Homo sapiens: one gene and its partners. The protein of the gene in region 3 purifies or fractionates together with the protein of the main gene of each other region. This does not show direct contact. Each region holds a gene or a part of one and is shown on either strand. Other genes may lie near its edges.

Region 1 (7,107 bases), on a different chromosome or scaffold from region 3:
CCGTTGGGGACAGAGCCAAAGAAAGGTGGCACCAGGCAGACAATGGGATGCCTGAGGGTCAAATTGTGAGGGCTCCTAGGAGTACTGGTTGGCCCGGTAGAAGCAGCAGGATCACCCAGAGGGTCAAGGAACCGAGAGGCTGCGTCGCCCACCTGGATGTTGAAATCATGGAGAACTGTGAGGAGTGGTGTGGGAGACAGGAAGCCCGGAGCTAAAACCTCCTGGGAGCCAATCGGGATGGATGGACAGGGTGGTGGAAGCAGCCCTTGGGAGCAGGGGGGACCCCCAAGGTACCAGAGGCATGGGAGAGAAAACAGCCCCCACTCCAGTGACAGCAGGAATTCTCAGCGGGGTGGCAGTCGTACCCTCCCATCTCTAGAGGACTTCTGGCAACATCTAGAGACATTTTTGGTTGTCACATTGCAGGGTGGTGGGGGACTACTGCAGCCGGTGGGTAGAGGCCAGAAATGTAAGCACCTGCTACTTTTCAGGGATCTTTTTCCTTCTGATGGGGAATGTCGGACAGCCCCCATACCCGAGAATAATGCAGCCCAGATGGCAGCAGTGCTGAGGGGGAGAAAGGAGGAGCAGAGCATGTCAGGAAGGAGGTGAAGTGGCGGGGGGTGGTGTTGCAGCTTCAATGGATGTCGTGAAGACTCAGTGATGCAATGAAGGAGGGGCTGGAGGAGACAGTGGGGATAGCCTCTTCCTCCTCCTCAGCCGGAGGACCGGATGGGAGACGGTCGATCGTTAAAGGATCTAGAAGGTTAGCTGCTACCAGGCAAGGCAGGGCCCGGGTCTGATCTCAGTGCCTGGCCCACACTAAGCTTAGTGATTAAGGAGAAGCAGGAATAAACCACAGAAGGGAGTGGCGGCTGTGGGCACAAGGGGCATTTGCAGGCCGAAAGGAGCCCGAGCCCCCAGTGCTTTTCTCTGGCCTGAGAGACGGGGTCCTCCCGGGCCACGGGCTCCTCACCTGAGCTTGCTCTTGAGTGCGTTCACCTCGCGGCCCATGGCCTCGTTGCTCTCCGTGGCCTCATCCAGCTCCCGCTGCAGCTTCCTGCGGTTGGCGTTGATGCGCTGGGACTCCTCCTCTGCCTCCTCCAGCTGCCTCTTGAGCTGCTTGACCCTGGCATTGCCTTTCTCTGCCTGTCGCGGAGAGTTGGAGGGGTGGTTAGGGGAGGCCGGCTGGGGGCTGGGGGCTCGAGGGAGGCTGGGTGGCAGGGGCTACCTGCTCCTTGTACTGCTCGGCCATCTTGCGCTCGTCCTCCACCTGCAGCAAGATTTCCTTCAGCTTCTTGTCTTTCTGCTTCAGCGACTTGGTGGCCGCCTGTTTCTCTCTGCAAACAGCAAGGAAAACAGGTGGTTTCAGCGGAGGGTGGCACCCCTTGTAGCTGGTGTGTCACCTGGAGGTGGCATCTTGAGTGCTTTCCTGAGCCCCGTATCTGGACTCCTCTCAAGAATCAGTCAGATGGTGGAATAGTATTCAGCCATGAAAAGGAATAAAGTATCAATGCATGCCACAGCATGGATGAGCCTGGAATTCTTGCCAAGTGAAAGAAGACACATAGCAGACAACATAGTGTGTGATTCCGTTGATATCAAGTGTCCAGAATAGATAAATTCATAGAGACAGAAAGTAGATTATGGTTGCCAGGGACTGAAGGGAGTGGTTACAGGGCATGGGGTTTCTATTTTTTTTGCGGGGAGGAGGCAAGGTCTTGCTGTGTGACCCAGGTTGGAGTGCAGTGGTGCTCCAATGCCTGCTCTTCACCCTAGTTCATAGTTCACTGCAGCCTTGAACTCCTGGCTCAAGCAATCCTCCCACCTCAGCCTCCCAAGTAGCTGGGACTACAGGCGTACACCAGCATGCTCAGACTTTTAAAAGTTTTTCATAGAAACGGAGTCTCTGGCCAGGCGTGGTGGCTCATGCCTGTAATCCCAGTACTCTGGGAGGCCGAGGTGGGCAGATCACCTGTGGTCAGGAGTTCGAGACCAGCCTGGCCAACATGGTGAAACCCCATCCCTACTAAAAAATACAATTACAAGCTGGGTACAGTGGTGTGCACCTGTAGTCCCAGCTACTTGGGAGGGTGAGGCGGAGGTTGCAGTGAGCTGAGATCGCACCACTGCACACCAGCCTGGGAAACAGAGTGAGACTATGTCTCAAAAAAATAAAAATAAAAAAGTCTTGCTATGCTGCCCAGACTGGTCTCGAACTCCTGGACTCAAGTGCTGCTCCCACCTACCTCAGCCTCCCAAAGTGCCGGGATTATGGGCATGAAATACCACATATGGCCTGGGGTTTCTGTTTGAGCCGATGAAAATGTTCTCAAAATGACTGTGGTGATCGTTTTTACATGTTTGTGAATATATGAATAGCCCTTGAATTATACACTTTAAATGGGTGCATTGCAGGGCGTGCGAATTACTGAAAAAGCTACTAGAAGAGAATGGGTGAGAATCCTTAGAATCCAATGGTAAGAAATGTGCTGTGATCATATGCCTCATTCGACCCATAATTAAGAAGGCTTCCAGTGTGTGTACCAAATGGGCTGCCGGTTGGACTTTTGTTTTTTGGGGTTTTTTTTGTGTGTGTGTATGTGTGTGGAAGGGTCCCACTGTGTCACCCAGGCTGCAGTGCAGTGGCACAATCTCGGCTCACTGCAACCTCCACGTGTCACGTTGGAGTGATTCTCCTGCCTCAGTCTCCTGAGTAGCTGAGATAATAGGCATGTGCCACCACACTCGGCTAATTTTTGGTACAGACAGGGTTTCACCATGTTGGCCAGGCCGGTCTCAAACTCCTGACCTCAAGTGATCCACCTGCCTCAGCCTCCCAAATTGCTGGGATTACAGGCGTGAGCCACCACGTCCAGCCTGGTTGGATTTTTGATCTGTCAGCATGCTATCCCTGCAGAGGCTGGGAAAAGTCATATGTACTGCTGGGAAGGCAGGTTAATGTCAGGAGGACCATGGAGATGCTAAGAGCAGCTCACACTTTAGGTGCTTGCCCTAGGCCAGGAACCAGCAGGGCACTTTGCTGTGTTTACGTTCAGTTCTCACAACATACCTGCACTGTAGGCATCACAGAGCTTGCTTCTTACAAGCCAGAACTGATGCTGGAAGAGGTTCCCTGACTTCACTATGACTCCTGCTGTCCATCACCCCCCTGCAAACTGGGTTCGGAACTCCACACCCGCATACCTGGCCTCCTGCTCGACCTGCTCCTCCAGCTGTGCAATCTTGGCCTCCAGCGCCGCGATGGTGGACTTGAACTTGGACTTGACGGCCCCCTCCATCTCGTGGAGCTTGCTCCGGAGCTCCTTGTTCTGCCGCTCGAGCTGCTGCCGGGCACTCTCATTCTTCTGGGCCGTGCTGCGCTCTGTGGCCAGCTCGTTGCTGAGCTGCTCGGCCTGGGGAGGAGAGTGAAGGCCATGAGGCGGACTCAGGGAAGCCCAAGAGAGCGCACTGAGACCATGCCTCTTCCTGCCTTGTTTGGCCTCTGCACGAGTCCCTTGATCCCGGGCACCCTGTCCTCTCCTTCATCCTGTAAAACTCCACTCAAGAGCTTCTTCCAGGCCGGGCGTGGTGGCGCACGCCTGTAATCCCAGCACTTTTGGAAGCAGAGGCAGGTAAATCACTTGAGCTCAGGAGTTCGAGACCTGCCTGGCCAACATGGTGAAACCCCGTCTCTATTAAAAATACAAAAATTAGCCGGGCAGTGGTGGCACGTGCCTGTAGTCCCAGCTACTTGGGAGGTTGAAGCAGGAGAATCCCTTGAACTTGGGAGGCAGAGGTTGCAGTGAGCCAAGATTGCGCCACTGCACTCCAGCCTGGGCCACAGAGAGACCCTGTCTCCAAAAAAAAGAGGTGCTTCCACAAGTGTCAGTGCCACCCAGGCTGAGCGAGTGACTTGTCCCTTGCTTTCTCTGTCCTGGAGTCGCCTGGAGAATGATGCCTGTTCACCCTACACCACAAGGGGCTGCAGGTTACTGGATGGTCCCTAGTGCCCACCATGGAACTAGTGCTCAGTGACATCACCAAGGGCTCACTGGATAAGGTCAGAGCTTCAGCTAGGGGAAAACGCAATGAAAGAGCATCCCAAGGCCCGGACTCCAGGGATGGCCGTGAGGTACGGGGAGCCAGCCACGCCGTGGCTGGAAAATGAGACACTGCAGCGTGGAGAGGAGTATTCTGAAGACAGCAGCCTGGGCACTGGTGTAAGGGCCCTGGATCTCTACTCTCAGGCCCCACCACCCTCTTGTCCCTCAATCCAGGGCCTGCACACAGGAAGCCGCCACGCGTGTGTTGACTGGTGCAGGATCCTGCTGCAGGAGAGACAGTAGGCAGCGTGACTGTGGTGTCCAGGCGGCCCTCACCTGCTGTGTGGCTTTGCGGACCCGGTCGCTCATGGCCTCCATGTTGCCCTGCTCCTCCTCCAGCTCCTCCTCCAGCTGGGCGATCCGGGCCTCCAGGCGGCGCTTCTCGTCCTGGAGTGCGTTCCTGGGGGAAGGGCGGCCATGGTGGGGGCCTCTACCCTCCCCCGCCTTAAAAGATGCCCCCTCCTTGGAGTCATGCCTCAGGGGTATTGCCCTCATCATCTAATGGGTGAAACTGAGGCTTGGAGAAGATTAGAAGACTCATCTGTAGTTACACAGCCAGGAAGTGGACAGCCGGGACTCAGGCCGGGTCCGTGTCAGCAAAGCTGGGATTGGGATGGGGACCAGCACACTCCTCCCTGACTCTTCCTGGCCTCCCCTTCTCCCCACACAGCTACTTATTGGGAATGAATGAAAGCAGCCACACCCCCAAACAGGCATGAAAGCGCTGACGGAAAACCTAACCACCATGGGTCTGTCCCCAATCTCAGAGGACGCTTCGTCAGCAGCAGCATTGAAATGGGGGTCCAGGGCCAGGCACGGTGGCTCACACCTGTAATCACAGCACTTTGGGAGGCCAAGGTAGGAGGATCACCTAAGGTCAGGAGTTCAAGACTAGCCTGGCCAACATGGTGAAACCCCACCTCTACTAAAAATATAAAAATTAGCCAGGCATGGTGGTACACACCTGTAGTCTCAGCTACTCAGAAGGCTGAGGCAGGAGAATTGCTTGAACCTGGGAGGTGGAGGTTGCAGTGAGCCAAGATTGTGCCACTGCCCTCCAGCCTGGGTGACAGAATGAAACTCTGTCTCGAAAAAATTTAAAAAATAAAATGGGGGTCGAGGATGCTGCCTGTCCCCCCATCCTCTGCTTCAGAGCCCTCTTCCTCCATTCAGTTTCCTACCTTCCCGACAGGCTACTGGCCAGCTCCTCTGCCAGTTCCTCCTTCTCGAGGTCCGCTTGTTTGCGAGCCCTCTCAGCGGCGGCGAGGTCCTAGGTGGGAGGGAGGAAGGCTGTTGTCTGCCAGGGAAAGGCCAAGCCCCACCAAGAGTCCACCCTGACAACTCAGCCACCCTTGAAAGTACATGTTCTTCCTCTGAGCTCAGGGGAGGCCCCGTGAATACATAGAGGAGGGAAGCGTGTGTCTTTCTAGACAGGTGGACCCCAGAGGAGGACGAAATGAAATCTGGGAATGCACAGACTGGAGCTGCCAAGGGGTGCTACCGTGACACCCGCATCTGAGGCTCTCCTAGCAAGGCGAGGCTTTACCTCTTGTAGCTGCATGAGGTCTGCTTCCAAGCTCTTGGCTTTCTTCTCATTCTCTTTGGCTGTGGCAAAGATCTCATCTCTGGAGGCACGGGCATCTTCCAGCTCTCTTTGAAAGTCCTTCATCTGAGCCTGCATGAGTCAACAGGGAGGACAAGCTCAGATGTCCTTACTCCCCCAAGTTCTGCTGCCCAGTTCAGCTTTGCACACCCACCCCTTGGATTTTCTGCAGTTGACCACAAAGAAGTTCCCATTGCACGAGCATGGCTCTCAGTTCCAGGTGGCTGGTGGTGCGCTGGGAGCACCATTCTGGGTGGGCTCCACAGACCTGCCTGAGAAGCTGAGCCCCTGATGTGATCTGAGGGCAGTGGCCAAATACCTAATAATGCTGCCCTACCCAGGGCAGGAGACAGCCACCAAATCCTGAATGGTTCCAGAAAAACCCCAGCTGAACCCACACCAATGGCAGGTGCAGGCTTGCTTCCTGGAGCCCGCTCTGCTGACTTCGGTGGCCTGAGGGGAACTGTGCCCTCCCTCCACCCATGCCCCAAGCTCCTAGTGTCACCCACCTGCAGTTTGCGTAGCTGCTTGATGGCTTCCTCCCTCCCCTTGATGGCAGAGTCGGCCTGAAGCTCCAGGTCTTTCAGGTCCCCTTCCAGCTTCTTCTTTGCTGCAGCTGCCAGGGCACGTTGCTTTCGCTCGTCTTCCAGTTCCGTCTCATACTCGTGAAGCTGGGCGAGGAATAGAGATGTGTGCTGCCCCACTTGCCCCTGGGAGGTCCTTTGGCTCACCTAGGCAGCACATCACTGCACCCCTTCCCCAGCACAGCCCCCTTGTGAGGTGGGCATCTCATCCCCAGTTGCAGATGAGAAAACGGAATCACGCCGGGCGTGGGTGGCTCATGTCTGTAATCCCAGCACTTTGGGAGGCCAACAGGAGAATGGATCACTTGAGGCCAGGAGTTCAAGACCAGCCTGGCCAACATGGTGAAACCTTGTCTCCACTGAAAAAAAAAAAAAAATTAGCTAGGTATGGTGGCATGCGCCTGTAATCCAAGCTACTCGGGAGGCTGAGGCAGGAGGTGGAGGTTGCAGTGAGCTGAGATTACGCCACTGCACTCCAGCCTGGGCGACAGAGCGAGACTCTGTTTCAAAAAAAAATAAAGAAAACGAAGTTTCCACACCAACCATGAGAGTGGTGATAGGAATGAAAAAGGCCACCCGACCTCCCTCTGCTGGCCTCCCCGGCAGCACGCACCTGTCTCTGCAGTTGCCTCCTCTTCTCCTCATTCTGCTCGTCCCGGGCTTGGAGATCCCTTTCGAACTGGCCCTTGAGCGCCTGCATGTTGACTTCCAGCCGCAGTTTGGCGTCCTCCGTGGCTTGCAGCTCGTCCTCCAGCTCTTCCAGCTGCGTCTTCATCTCCTCCATCTGGGTCTCCAGGGCCCGCTTGGACTTCTC
Region 2 (6,925 bases), on a different chromosome or scaffold from region 3:
CAAAACAAAGTAACGGAGGCCAGGCGCGGTGGTTCACGCCTGTAATTCCAGCACTTTGAGAGGCCAAGGTGGGTGGATCACCTGAGGTCAGGAATTTGAGACCAGCCTGGCCAACATGATGAAACCCCATCTCTACTAAAAATACAAAAAATTAGCCGGGCGTGGTGGCGGGCGCCTGTAATCCCAGCTACTCAGGAGGCTGGGCCAGGAGAATCACTTGAACCTTGGAGGCAGAGGTTGCAGTGAGCCGAGATCACACTGTTGCACTCCAGCCTGGGCGACAAGAGCAAAACTCTGTCTCAAAAAAAAAAAAACAAAAAATTTAGCCAGCGTGGTGGTGGGCACCTGTAATTCCAGCTACTCGAGAGGCTGAGGCAGAATCGCTCGAACCCAGGAGGCAGAGGTTGCAGTGAGCTGAGATCGTGCCACTGCACTCCAGCCTAGGCAACAAGAGCGAAACTCCATCTCACAAAAAAAAAAAAGAAGTAACGGGAGCAATTTTATGCCAGGACTGATAACCCCTTATCCAATCACTGACATCTGGCTAGAAGTCCCCAGACACTAAACCCTCACCCCTCAACAGAGGAGGTATCAGTTCCCTCTGGTCATTTGCAGCTGCCTCCAGGCCTTGAGTGAGGCTGCCAGAACTGGGCCCAGTAAAGTGGGGTAGTCCGAGCATGAAACACTTACTCCAAGACAGGAGGGGCTCGGCCCTGAGGCTGGATCTACCCCTGGGCCAATATTTCTGGTGCCAACTAAGAGTGCCAGGCATTGTACATAGGGATGGATGATAAGACATGATACAGTCACAGCACCAGGGAAGTAGAAAAGGAAAGAAGGGACGCTTCCTTGGCTCCAAGGAGGGGATGGTATCTGAAGATGGGCAAGACTTGGAGATGGAGAGAAGGAGCACCCCAACAGTGGGAATGACAAAAGCAAAGGCAAGTAGGCTGGAAAGCACTGGCTGTGCAGCTAGCGCTGCAGCGGGAGCTGGGGACAAGGGGACAGAGATCCGGCAACGGTGCAGAGTAGGCCCAGAAGAGATGACAATGCTATCTTCAAGGCGGTGTTTGGAGACCTGGTCAAATCCCAAGATCTGCCCAGACTGACCCTATGGCCAAGGGCCCTCAGTTTTCTACCGTGAACTAGTGCAAAGTTTCTCAAATATTAGGGTCATTAGGATCACCTGGGACAGGTTGCCAGGCTCCTCCTCCAGCGAGGACCTTCAGAGGTCCCAGGGTCTAGGGACTTTCTCAGGAGAGGTGAAAGCTGAGTAAAGAATGGCCAAGGGCCCAAGAGGACACTGTGGGCAGACAGTACAGCATGTATAAGGCCCACTCCCTACATAGCTAAGGTATGAGGTGCATGTAGACAAAGGAGGAGAGGTGAAGCCAGAGAAGTGGACCAGGCTCACAACACAACAGCCCTACCAATAAACTGGGACTTCACCCCGTAGGCAACAAGGAGCTATCAGAGACTCCCGAAGCCTGTAGGATCCTGGCAACAGCTCCCCTAGTCACTCACATAATACAACTCCTGTCTCAGCATGCTTCCCCAACCAACATCAGTCTCCACCCTTTAATATTACCTACTACTCCTTAAAATCTGGCCTCGGATCCCCTCTGTACAACTATTAGGTCAAAATCAAATAAGCAATTTGACCTAGGCAATTCACACTATGTCAGAAACACATCTCAGACAAGGAGAGCCAGGCAGTGAAGACAGATGATAAACAGAGATGGAAGCTGTCATGGAGGCAGACTGGTCCAGCCTGGGACAAGGCGGCCAGCTGTGCTCTCCCCAGATCATATCTGTTCCTCTTGAGCTTTCTCTTCCTCATTCGGAGGAACTCCAGGCTTCTCTAAATGGGTTCATGACCCTTGGAGGAAGGGGAAAAAGGGACACAGAGAGGAGATAAGATGGTTCACAATGAGTTTGACCAGATCCTACTGAAATACCTTAAGAGCAATGAGAAGTGTCACTGCAACTTCAACACTTCCAGAGGCCTCACCAAGGCCCTCTCCAGTTGCTCAGGATGACTACTGGTGACCAGTCCCATCCTCAGAAGTCAAAAACTGAGGAACATAAACAGAGGTGCAGACTCTGAAGGCAGTGCTGAACCCTGCAACGTTAGCAAAATGGGGGCGCGCGGACTCTCCTGGGGGCTGCGCTTAACTGGGGGAGAGGAAAACGAGGCGGTCATTAAAAACGCAGCTCCACTCCTCAGCACCAGCTGAGGGCGTCTGGCTCCCGGACACGCCCCCGAACGAGCCCTCCCGCAGGTTGTGAACACTACATTGCAAGCGGGCAGCTCAGGGAAGATCCTACCCGCTAGTTCCCCGGATCCCCTCCGGGAGCGCAAACTGACCTCGCCTAGGATGGGGTGGGCCACCCACCGGGAGCCCCCAGCCGCGGCCCGCTCACCTTGCACTTGAAGCCAGCGGCGGGCGGCAGGAGCTCCCGCAGCAGGCCCTTGGCCACCTCGCGGCTGGCCTCCTCGCTCACGAAGTGAAGGTTAAGCACCTCGTGCGCCTCGAACTTGGCGAGGCGCAGCAGTGAGCGCAGCGCGACGCGGGCCTTGGCCTGCAGCGCGGCATTGTGCTCCGCCTTGGTGAACATCATCAGCAGGTGGTAGTCCACCGGCCCGGCACCGCCGCCCTCCAAGCTCTTGGCCTTCGCGCCGGGGGCTGGCGCCACGGAGCCCCGCGCTAGCTCCAGCGCGGGCGGCGAGGGCGCGGCGGGAGCCCCGGCGCGGGCCTCCTTCAGCCTCTTGGTGGCGCTGGAGAAGGTCTCCCGGCCTGAGCCGAGGTAGTAGAAGGCGCAGACGGCCAGCGCCGCGGCCAGCAGCAGGGCGCAGTAGTGGGAGCGCACAGCGCCCAGGCGCGCCATGGCCCGAGCGCATGGGAGCCCGCCTCGGAGGAGGCCCATGCGCTACGAGACCGCGGCGCCAGCGGTGCCAGCAACGCGGGAGAGCCCTCGGGTACCCGGACGCCGGCGGCCACTTAGCCCCGGCGCCAGGCGGCGGCCATGAAAGGGGCGGGGCCGCGCCGCCTGGAGCCAATCGCGGGCGCCGGTGCGCGGAGGGGCGGGGCCGGGCGTGCCGAAACCGCTGGGTCCTAGGTTCCAAGGGTATTAGAGGAGGGGTTAGGGTGGGATCCGGCGCCCGGCGTTGGGAGGGGGGGATTCCGGACTCCAGCGTGCTGAGGGCTGGCCCGCTGTCCCGGCTGAGAAATGGCGCCCTACGCGGCGAGCCCCAGAGGATATCCAAGCTGAGTGTTGAAGGGAATGGAGGCGCCCGAACAGAGGAACTTAGGTTAGCCAAAAGCGAAGCTGGAGGCACCAAGAGGTAAAACTTTAATCTCTGCACCTTTTTTCCCTCAATTTCTTGGAGGCTTTAAGCCGTCTCGGCCTCTCCCTGCACACGAGCTGCAGCTAGGCAATTTAAACCGGCAGCTCCTCCCTTTTCCCCCGCCCTGGGAGGAAATGGCCCGGGCCGCACGTCGCGCCGGAGGCCGAGCGGAGGGAGGCTGGAGGATGTGGCCAGCAGGGGGCCCCCGCCGCCCGCACGAACCTGCGAGGCTGCTCCCCGAGCCCCAGCACCGCAAAGCCCTGGAGGGCGACATTCATCCACTTTTGTTTTATAAACAGACTTTTAACACTTTATCAAGAGCCTCCTTGAGGGTACCAGGGAGTTTTGCACGCCGAGGTCACGTGCCCAAAGTCACACAGCTAGCCAGTAGCAATTTTGACCCTAGGCAGTTGCACACTGCTAACTAGATAAAAACGTACTAACTTCAGTCTTCTAAGAATTGAGGCTATACCAGTAGTTTTTAAGTAAACACGTGCAAGTGCTGTGCATGCTGTCTAAATAGACAAAGAACTTGAGTAAGTACAGTAACCCTTCAGTTCTTTGGCCAAGTTCTCTGATTTCTGACCAGAGATTAGGTAAACGGTTTTTCCTGTTATTTCCACATTGTAAGGTTGCATGGATTATCCAACCTCTCTGCTTCAGACCTTGGCTTACATGTCACTACCTACACAAATGATCTCTAAATACCTCCTATCCAGTGTCTGGGCTAAGTGCCATCCTCAATAATTCTGTGAGGGCCACCTAAATATATGTACTACCCTAGTCTCATCTTTCTTCATTGCAAGAACACGTGACTCCAAGAGAACAGAATATACATTTGTTTTTTATTAACCACAATATACCCAGTACCTAACACGGTGCCTACCACATTGGATGAGTCTCAAAAATATACTCAACCATTGAAACAGCATTTTTATTTCTAGAAAATCTTCCTAATAATTTAAGAATGTTCAAAATATTTAACCATAAGAATAAAGCAAGGCCAAGCATGGTGGCTTAGGCCGGGAATGGTGGCTCACGCCTGTAATCCTAGCACTTTGGGAGGCCGAGGAGGGCAGATCACCTTAGGCCAGGAGTTCGAGACCAGCCTGCCCAACATGGCGAAACCCCGTCTCTACTAAAAATACAAAAAATTAGCCAGACATGGTGGCGGGCGCCTGTAATCCCAGCTACTCAGGAGGCTGAGGCAGAAGAATCGCTTGAACCTGGGAGGTGGAGGTTGCAGTGAGCCGAGATCATAACACTGCACTCCAGCCTGGGCGACAAGAGCAAAACTCTGTCTCAAAAAAAAAAAAAAAGTAGGCAGTGTGGTGGCGGACACCTGCAATTCCAGCTACTCGAGAGGCTGAGGCAAGAGAATCGCTTGAACCTAGGAGGCAGAGGATGCAGTGAGCCGAGATCATAACACTGCACTCCAGCCTGGGCGACAAGAGCAAAACCCTGTCTCAAAAAAAAAAAAAAAGTAGGCAGTGTGGTGGCGGACACCTGCAATTCCAGCTACTCGAGAGGCTGAGGCAAGAGAATCGCTTGAACCTAGGAGGCAGAGGATGCAGTGAGCCGAGATTGTGCCTCTGTACTCTAGCCTGGCGAAAGAGAGCGAGACCCTGTCTCAAAAAACAAACATAAAAATAAAGCAAAGCTAGGTTCATGATGGCAAAAAATCAGAATCAAATGGTCATCAATAAAGTGGTTAAAGCTAAAATAATGCAGTCATTAAAAGTGATGTTTTCAACAAACTGCAGGTGGAAATTTAAAAAACTAACAAATGGGTGAGGTGGCTCATACCCGTACTCCAAGCTATGTGGGAGACTGAGGTGGGAGGATCACTTGAGCTCAGGGGTCCAAGGCTGCAGTGAGCTACGATCGCCACAGGACTCCAGCCTGGATGACAGTGCGAGACCCCAATTCCAAAAAAAAAATAGTAATGGTAACAAATGGAAAAAAAAACCTACAGAGACTAAGAAACATATTCACCAACTGCAACGTATGGAACTTATGTGAATTCTGATTTGCACGATCTATTTTAAAAATCGTATTTGAGAAACCAATTTGAATATTGATTATGTAGTTTTACAGTTTAAGAAGTGTTACGATTTTTTAAAGTCCTCAACTTTTAGATGTACATACGGAATGATTTGCTGGTGAAAGGTCTAGGATCTGGTTCCAAAAAGTCCAGGAAAGGGGAAAAATGGGTAGGAGAACAAATATAAGCCATGAGCTTATAGCTATTGATTTTCTCTACCTGTACATGCTTGAAATTTCCCATAAAGTTCTCCCCATCTATTAAGTGAAAGAAGTGGGTAACTGTATGATCCCATTATATAAATGTATGAATACACACACCCAAAGGTCTAGAAGGGTATACACAAAAAAGTAACAGTATCTCCCTCAGTGCTATCCAGTAGAACTTCCTGTGACAATGTATATATTCTACAATCTCCCCTGTTCAAAACAATAGTCACTAGCCACATGGGGCTATAAAGTTCTTAAAATGTAGCAGTACGACTGAGGAAATGAACTCTTTGTCTAATTCCAATTAAGTAGCCACATGTAGCTAGTGAGTTCCATTTTGGACAGCACAAGATAATGGAATTGTGGATGATTCTCTTGCTTCTTCTTAACATTTCTCCACAAGCAAAAAGCTTTGTGTTTGCAATAATTGAAAAATTAAACTGTTTTCACTTAAAATATTTATAGACTATTGATGTGGGTTCTCCACAGAACTATTCTGAAAATGAAATGAAGCTGAATAAAGCAAGTTATATTGAAAAGTTTATGTGTCTGCTTTCAATTAGCTTTTTTTTTTTTAAAGCAAATGCAGGTGATACACTTCCAGTTTGGTTTTTTCAACCTTCCATTCCTTCAGTCCCAATTCACTGACAAACGTGTGTGTGTCTGTTTACTAAAAGGATAAAATGGGAATGTGCTGCATAGATTAGGAACATTAATGTCAATCATAATGGAAAAAACTTAGAGCAAGCCCCTCCCCCCACCCCCCAAAAAAAACCTTTTATCTTTTTGCCAATGAATTAGGGGCTATAACAGCTCTGTGAACAAAGAGAATTATATACTTAAAAGATCCAAATGGATTTCTTGATTGAAGTAATCAGCAAATAGGATGAATGTGGATTTGAAAGGGCTGGGAAGAAATACCTTAAAAATAATAGTACCTTAAAAATAACTGCTGTTGACAGATATGTTCACAGTGTATTTCACAAGAAAATGTAAATCACCATGAAAGAACTAAGCCAGAGGTGAGATCTTTATTGACTTATTGTAATTTTTTGGCATACAAATTACTTAAGTATATTTACAATTCTTACATAATGTACATTTTAGAAGATAATGTACTTTGCTCCATTTACAATGACAAACTACTGTAAAACTACATTCATGAATTAGATACAAATCCTCTACATACTAATAAAAAGTAAATGGACTGTTGGTTATACATTCTTTAAAATATACCTTTTCACAGGTAGCAAGAAATAGTACATGTAATAAGTCTTTATGACTGGAATGATCCAGAAATATCACAAAGCATGAGTAAACACA
Region 3 (7,107 bases):
CAACTTTCCATCATTCCCAGTACTACTGTTCTTGTTCCAGGCTGACCCCATTAAAAGGCTGAAGCAATCCTGAGCCCCCAGAAGATTCCCAAGGAGCACTGTCTTCGCCATCCCTTGTGTGGCTGAGCCCATCTGTCCCTGCCCTTCCATGCCTACCCACCTGGGGCTCAATGTCAAGGATGGCAATCTTGTTCTGCTTATGGATCTGGTGCACTGTTTCAAATTTGGTGCCAAACATGTTGCCTTGGTAGCTGCCAAACTCCAAGAACTCATTGGCAGAGATGTTCCTCGTCATCTCCTCCGTTGAGATAAAGTGGTACTCCTTCCCATCTTCCTCACTCTTCCTTGGCGGCCGTGTTGTATCTGTGTACAAGAACCCAAATCCCCGACAAACTCCAGGTCCTCACCCTTTCATGAGGGCTTGGACCATGGTGTCTGTATGGAAACCCTAGCTGCCTTTGGTGCATTGACTTTAATACAGGGGTTCCTCCCGTGGGCTCCTGAAGAGCTGATGCTAGAAAGTGATGCACACCAGGAAATCCCTCCATCTGCCCAGGACACATTTAATTTTTAAGGGGCAAAGCCTAACATAGAAAATTCCTATTATCATTTTCCCTAAATGAAGTTACATCTCTCAAACTACCAAATCTAGGAATATTGAAACTTAGAAATGAAGATAGCGGAAAATATTTTAAAAACAGATCTACAGACTATGGTCAGGATTTCTTGGAAATATATTTAAGGTTTCCTTTTCATGACTTGGAAAGAAGAGTACTTTGGTTTAGTTTCAGCTCATGTTGTTAAAAGTTGGACTATTTTCTATTACTCATATAAATTGTCTAATCAGTAAAATATGCTCCAGATATTGTAGCTTGAAACACAATCCTCCCAACCTCCCCTCTTTCCATCTTCCATTGACTGTCTCCTTTGCCTTCCGGATCACACTTGTCTCTCAACTGGCCCCTTCCCCTCAATCTACAACCACATGTGATTCTCTTGAAGGAGGAGCCTGTACTGGTTATTTCTGCTTCCCCACTCACTCCTGGGGCCATCTCTTTCTGCTCCTAATGTGACACTGGAATAACTCTTATGTCCCTCCAGCAACGAGACAACTCTCAATGATCCATGTGTAAAAAAGCAAAATGAAGAAAGAATTAAAAAATAGTAATATGAGGTTTAGAATCTGGTTTTCTATTTTGCTTAGCAGTACAGTAATTCCTCACTTAATATTATTATCAGTAGGTTCTTAGAAAATGTGACTTTAAGTGAAATCACATGCAGCTGGTCGTTGACTAACATGGTTTAGTTCAACTTCATTTCATTGTATTGTTGATGAGTAAAAAAACTGGTTCTTGTTATATGTCATTTCACTTAAAGTCACAGTCTTCGAAGAGCCTATTGACAATATTAAGTGAGGAATCACCGTATTTCTTTCTGGGAACATACACAACTATACCATGCAGCATCACTTCTGGGAATGGAAGAGTTATCAAATTCTCCACCTGATCACTGGCGCTACTCTTCTCCATATCTAGGACTGCTGTTGAGATCGTTTGGGCCTTTCCTAGGCACTGCTTTGATTTAGAAGACATTCCATGAAAATGAGAGGCAGCCTGAACATCAAGAGTGGGATAGTTCTCAAAGAGAATTAGGCAAATTGCAGAGGAACATGAGAAAATGTTTAAAAAGTAAAATGACAAAGTTATATGTATAAACTTTAATACTTAGTAATTTTTAAGGCAGTATCAAAATGTTTACTATAGCTTCTGTTATGTAGACAAACAGCACGAATAACAATAAGAAAACAGTTATTCTGTTAGGTGGAGGAATTGTGGGCACAAATTTTTATCTTTCCATATTTTGTTTAGTTTTAATAATCATTTAAAATAAAATAATTTAAAAAATAATAAAATAACACTATGGTATTTCAGATGGCGAGTGGTACCAGCCTGTCACCTCCCCTCCAAGGTGCCTAAGAGCTACTTACATGGGACAGGGTACACAAACTTCTCCGGATTCTGGCTGAGCAGGGCATTCTTAATGTGGCTGCGACCCACCCCACTGGCTCCTGTGTAGAGAGAGAAGAACATCTTTTGGAAAGGGGGGAGAGGAGCGAGGATAAGATACGGATTTTCCTCTCTCGGCACTCAAAACTGCCAACAGGTGAACATGAGTTGGGGTTGCATCTGGGCTGGGGTCAACTCTAAAGACAGGAAGGTGAGCAGTCCGCCAGAGGCAAAGCCTACATACCTGGGTTTGAAGCAAGGACTTACTCTGTTTCAGGTCAGAGTCACTGCTTGGGGGAAGGGAGATTTACAAAGCGTATCACTGCCAGCAGACAGCATGAAACCTAACCAAAAATAATTCGTTGCTAAATAGTAGAGAAACTTGTAAGGTTTAGTTTCATTTGTGAGGTGGACCCAGGTGGGGTGCACGTGAGGATTCAGAAAATTCCTTACACCTGCTCTATATGGAGAACCCAAGAGACCTCAGTTCTTTTCTTCCTCACTGCCTTTTTTGGGGGTGGGCACGTGATGCAGGCAGGAAAACAAAGACAGAAATGTGCAAATGGGGCAATGAGAAGATACCGATCAGCACCAGGGTCTTCCTCTTGAATGCAGGGAGCCGAACGACTTCCTCGTAGGAAACAACATCCAACTGATCAAAAACTAGAGACAAAGAAAACCAAGCAGTGTTCATTTCCAGAGCTAGGGAGAACAGTGGTCCACACTCTGAAATGGGAAACAGCCTCGCGACATCTCAACAAGCAGGGAGGAAGTGACTAGAGATGAGACGAGGGAGGTTGGTGTGGAGGAAGGACTTTGGACTGTATTTTTAGTGTGGTGAGGGAATTTTGAGCAAGGGAGTTTATCTAACTTTTGCACCCTCTCTTCCTCCTTGCCCTATCTCTCTGAGCCAACTTTTCTTGTCTCCTGTCCTCATCTCTTCTCCATAGTTTCAGTATCAGATGTTCCCTTGGCACTTAGAGCTGAAGAATGCCAATGCTATCTCGGTTCTGCCTGAATGTCCCTTATCTTAGAAGATGGTGGTGCTATTGACCCAGCTGCTCAAGATAGAGACCTGGTGTCATCCTGACTCTCCACCCCCTTACCTGCCTACAACCCAAGACTGCCACGATCATTCCCTGGCTGGTGGTGTGCACGTGACGTCTCAGAAAAGAGAAATGCAGATGGAAAGCTGACCGTGCGAATTCTCTGCTCAAAACCCTTCACCAGCTCCACAGTCTATAGTGCAAAATTTAAAACGCTAGGGAGGGTGCACGAAGCTCCCTATGACCTGGCCCTGGCCTCTCCCTCTGGCCTGTGTTCTTGCCTCACTTCCCCTCTCCCACCACATCTACTTCTGTGTGAGGGGTGGGGTGATGAGCAGGTGTGGGCTCACCACTAGTCCTCCTTTACATCCACTGGCCTGACTGCAGCAAGCTTGTGAAGATGGATTCAATAAAAAGAAACCAGAAGAAATGACATGCTTTCTGTAGAATGCGCCTTCTGCTGCGCACTGCACCACCTCCCCTTTTCTGCTGGTTACAGAGACTGGGAAACACGTGAATGCTGCCAGGAACCTGGGGCAAGAAGGCTCAGAAAGCTTACTCGAGCTGTGCTTGGCCAGATATTTGTCTTTGTACTTCTTCTTCTTCCCAAAGGGACTGCAGCTCGGGGCTTCGCTAGGAGCTGACTGAGCCATACTTGCCACTCGCCTGGTAGGAAAAGACAATCAAGGGGTCAGCTTTCCTCCCCCTCCCCTCATACCCCCCCCAGCCACTCAGTCTCTAATGGCACCCCCTTCACTCTCTGAGTGTCCATTACAGTGGGAGATAATGTGTGCAAAGCACCCCATACACTGTTTGGTGCATCTTGCACTGTGCCCTGCCCTCAGTCAGGGACCTGGCTCCTTGAGTCTGTGTCATCTAGTACCTGTCAGCACATTCTGGACACAACCCACAAACAACTCTCTTTCTTTGGTCTAGACCATAAAGGTCTCAAACCTTTATGACCCTACCTCACTCTAAGAAATACACTGTACATTGCAAGCCATTATTGCACATACATCTATAAACAAAACACATACACACACCCCACATATATATCTAAAACAACTGCTTCACAAAACAATAACTTGTATTACTACATGTAATATATTCTAATATTTCTATTCAGTGTCAACCCCACAATGGTTGTAATCTTTACACTGGGGTAAGTTTGCACAGGCAGAGGGAGGCTCAGTGTTGGATGTCTTATCAGTTGGAACTGTTTTGTGAATTTTTCTGCCATTCCTATGATGTAACCAGGACTAAGTGAGCAATCTGACTCGGGGACAGGAATTATTTCTTCCATGTACCAGGAATGTGCCTAAAGGACACATACTTAAATGCGACTGTTTTCTGCAGGACTCCAAGGAAATCCCAGAAACAGCATGGCTGGTAGAAGCGCACTAGCTTGGGAAACAGGAGACCAGGGAGGGCTCAGTCCCAGCACTGTCACGTGCTTGGTAACTATGGGGAAAACGTTTAAGGAAGCAAGAGGCCCACATAAGAATGAAGAGCTATTTGGGCTCCCTTGCCTGTGGTTGCCTCTCAGTCCAGCTTATCAACGCATGGTTAACCCTCCCCCACCCATTATGCCAGGAAATCTAGGAGGTCTCCTTGGTTGAGAAACAGAAACTACAAACAAAATGACAGATTTTCTGAAGCTAAGTTATTTGTGGCAGGCACATGGCCCTTCCACCTGCACAAAAATGGCTCACCATTCCTGCAGCTCAGGGGAAGGGATCAATCCTGCTGACTCCTTGGAGGAGCCTTCCACCCGTCCCTGCCACCAATTGCTGTCATCCTTGTTGATAATCTGGATAATGTCCCCAGTAGCAAACTTCAGTCCCGCCTCCTTGCAAGGGATCAGATTGTCCTTTTTGGGATCATAGTCAAACTGCGCTCTCATGAACATCTAAAAAGAAGGTAAAAGGAACTGCAGGCGGCAGCTTCAAAAGAAACACCAGCATCAGAGCATGTCCTGCTGTAGACAAATGGGGTCAGGATGGAATGAACAACAGGGAGGTAAGAATGGTGGGGGAGCACCCAAGAAAGAGAAATTGAAACGCTGAAGTGATTGTGTTTGCGGAGGGGTCAGAATGAATCCCTTTAACAAGAAGGCATGAGAAGCCAGGCGCAGTGGCTCACGCCTGTAATCCCAGCACTTTGGGAGGCCGAGGCGGGTGGAACACATGAGGCTAGGAGTTGGAGACCAGCCTGGCTAACATGGTGAAACTCCGTCTCTACTAAAAATACAAAAATTAGCTGGGTGTGGTGGCGTGCACCTGTAGTCCCAGCTACTCGGGAGGCTGAGGCGGGAGAATCGCTTGAACCCGGGAGGTGGAGCTTGCAGTGAGCCGAGATTGTGCCACTGCACTCCAGCCTGGGCGACAGAGTGAGACTCCGTCTCAAAAAAAAAAAAAAAAAAAAAAAAAAAGAAGGCATGAGATATCTTTCCACGTCAACGTGTCCACAGTTACTGCTGGATCTGGGTCGTCTGTCTCAGTACAGGGCAGCTACTCTTTGAACAACTGTTTTCACAATTGAAAATATGGACACTCATATCTATCAAAGAACTTGAATTTATTATTGAAAATTCTCCTCTCCTGCTCCCAAACACACACACACACACACACACACACACACACACACACACACACACCTACCTCATTACTTCATTGACAAATTTTCCAAGCATCATTTGAAGAAAGAAGGCTAATCTCATACGAAAACAGATTATAGAAAATGATGGCACTTCCCAACTCATTATAAGCATGATACCCAAATCTGACAAGAATCTTATAATTTCTCTCTGCAACAGAGATGTAAAAACCCCAAACAAAATATCAGCAAGTCAAATTTAGTTATGTATAAAAAGTATAATAAATCACAACCAAACAGGATCTAGTTCAGCAATATAAGAAGGTTTACTACCTGAAGGGCAATAAATTCACCACGTTAACATAAAAATGGAAAAAGATCATATGATCCCCTCAATAGATGCAGAAAAAGCCTGTGATAACATTCAAAACCCATTCAAGATTAAAATTCTTAGCAAACTTGGAATAGAAGGGAGGTTCTTTACTGTGAGAAAGAATACCTACAGAAACCCTACATCCAACGTCATACTTCTCAGTGAAAGATTAAAAGCTTTCCCTGCCTTTTTCAAAGGACATGGGTCTTGCTATGTTACCCAGGTTGGTCTCGAACTCCTGGGCTCAAGCAATCCACCCGCCTCGGCCTCCCAAAGTGCTAGGATTACAGGCGCATGCCACCACACCTGGCCAGCTTTCCCTTTAAGATGGAAAAATAAACAAAGATGTCTGCTATCATCACTTCCACTGGGATACTGTGAAGATGCCTCTTTTATCCAAACTGATATGTAGGTTTGACACAGGGATAAACAAACAGTCCAAAAGAAAAGAATAAAAAGTTCCAAAATAGACCTGTAAATATTACCATGACAAAAGTGACAGTGTACAGTAAATGATACTGGTTCAATTGGTATCCATATGGAAAAACTGGAATCTTGACCTCTTACCTTACAATGTATATAACAATCAATCCCAGATGGGTTGTGGATCCAAATGTGAAAAATCAAACAAGTAAGCATTTAGAAGAAAACACAGGAGAATATCTTGTTGACCTTGTGGTAAGTAAAAACTTTTAAAACAAGACATAAAAAGTGCTAATCAGAAAAAAGTGGTAGATTGGATTTCATTAAAATTAAGAGTTTCTAGTCATTAACAGGAACCATGAAGAAAATAAGCCACAGAAGAAGAGAACATACTTGGGATGCATATGACAAAGGACTCTTATCCAGAATATATGAGGAACTGCTACAAATCAGTAAGAAAAGCCTTGAATTGGTATCTTACAAAAGAGGATATCCAAGTGGAAAAAAACATATAAAAAGGAGTTTACCCTCATTAGTCATTAGAGAATTTTTAGAATCACAATGTGATACCACCATCAGGATGGCCAAAGGGTGAAAAAAAACCCAACAAATCAGACAATGCTAAGTATTGGTGAGAATACAGAACAACCAGAACTGTCATACT

The links.
Region 1: the proteins of MPP1 (region 3) and MYH11 purify together in Homo sapiens (affinity purification with mass spectrometry; 2 studies listed by BioGRID and IntAct, with this or other methods). This does not show direct contact.
Region 2: the proteins of MPP1 (region 3) and XXYLT1 purify together in Homo sapiens (co-immunoprecipitation; 2 studies listed by BioGRID and IntAct, with this or other methods). This does not show direct contact.

What each region holds. Positions count from the first base shown.
Region 1 is NC_000016.10:15,713,933-15,721,039, forward strand, and holds part of MYH11 (myosin-11), read right to left. Parts: coding exon 6,907-7,107; intron 6,381-6,906; coding exon 6,219-6,380; intron 5,782-6,218; coding exon 5,653-5,781; intron 5,377-5,652; coding exon 5,288-5,376; intron 4,507-5,287; coding exon 4,383-4,506; intron 3,417-4,382; coding exon 3,208-3,416; intron 1,341-3,207; coding exon 1,232-1,340; intron 1,150-1,231; coding exon 977-1,149; intron 1-976. UniProt on the Homo sapiens protein: Muscle contraction.
Region 2 is NC_000003.12:195,268,131-195,275,055, forward strand, and holds the start of XXYLT1 (xyloside xylosyltransferase 1), read right to left. Parts: upstream 3,030-6,925; 5' UTR 2,929-3,029; coding exon 2,425-2,928; intron 1-2,424. UniProt on the Homo sapiens protein: Alpha-1,3-xylosyltransferase, which elongates the O-linked xylose-glucose disaccharide attached to EGF-like repeats in the extracellular domain of target proteins by catalyzing the addition of the second xylose.
Region 3 is NC_000023.11:154,781,440-154,788,546, forward strand, and holds part of MPP1 (55 kDa erythrocyte membrane protein), read right to left. Parts: intron 4,962-7,107; coding exon 4,765-4,961; intron 3,719-4,764; coding exon 3,612-3,718; intron 2,670-3,611; coding exon 2,589-2,669; intron 2,069-2,588; coding exon 1,988-2,068; intron 364-1,987; coding exon 161-363; intron 1-160. UniProt on the Homo sapiens protein: Essential regulator of neutrophil polarity. Regulates neutrophil polarization by regulating AKT1 phosphorylation through a mechanism that is independent of PIK3CG activity.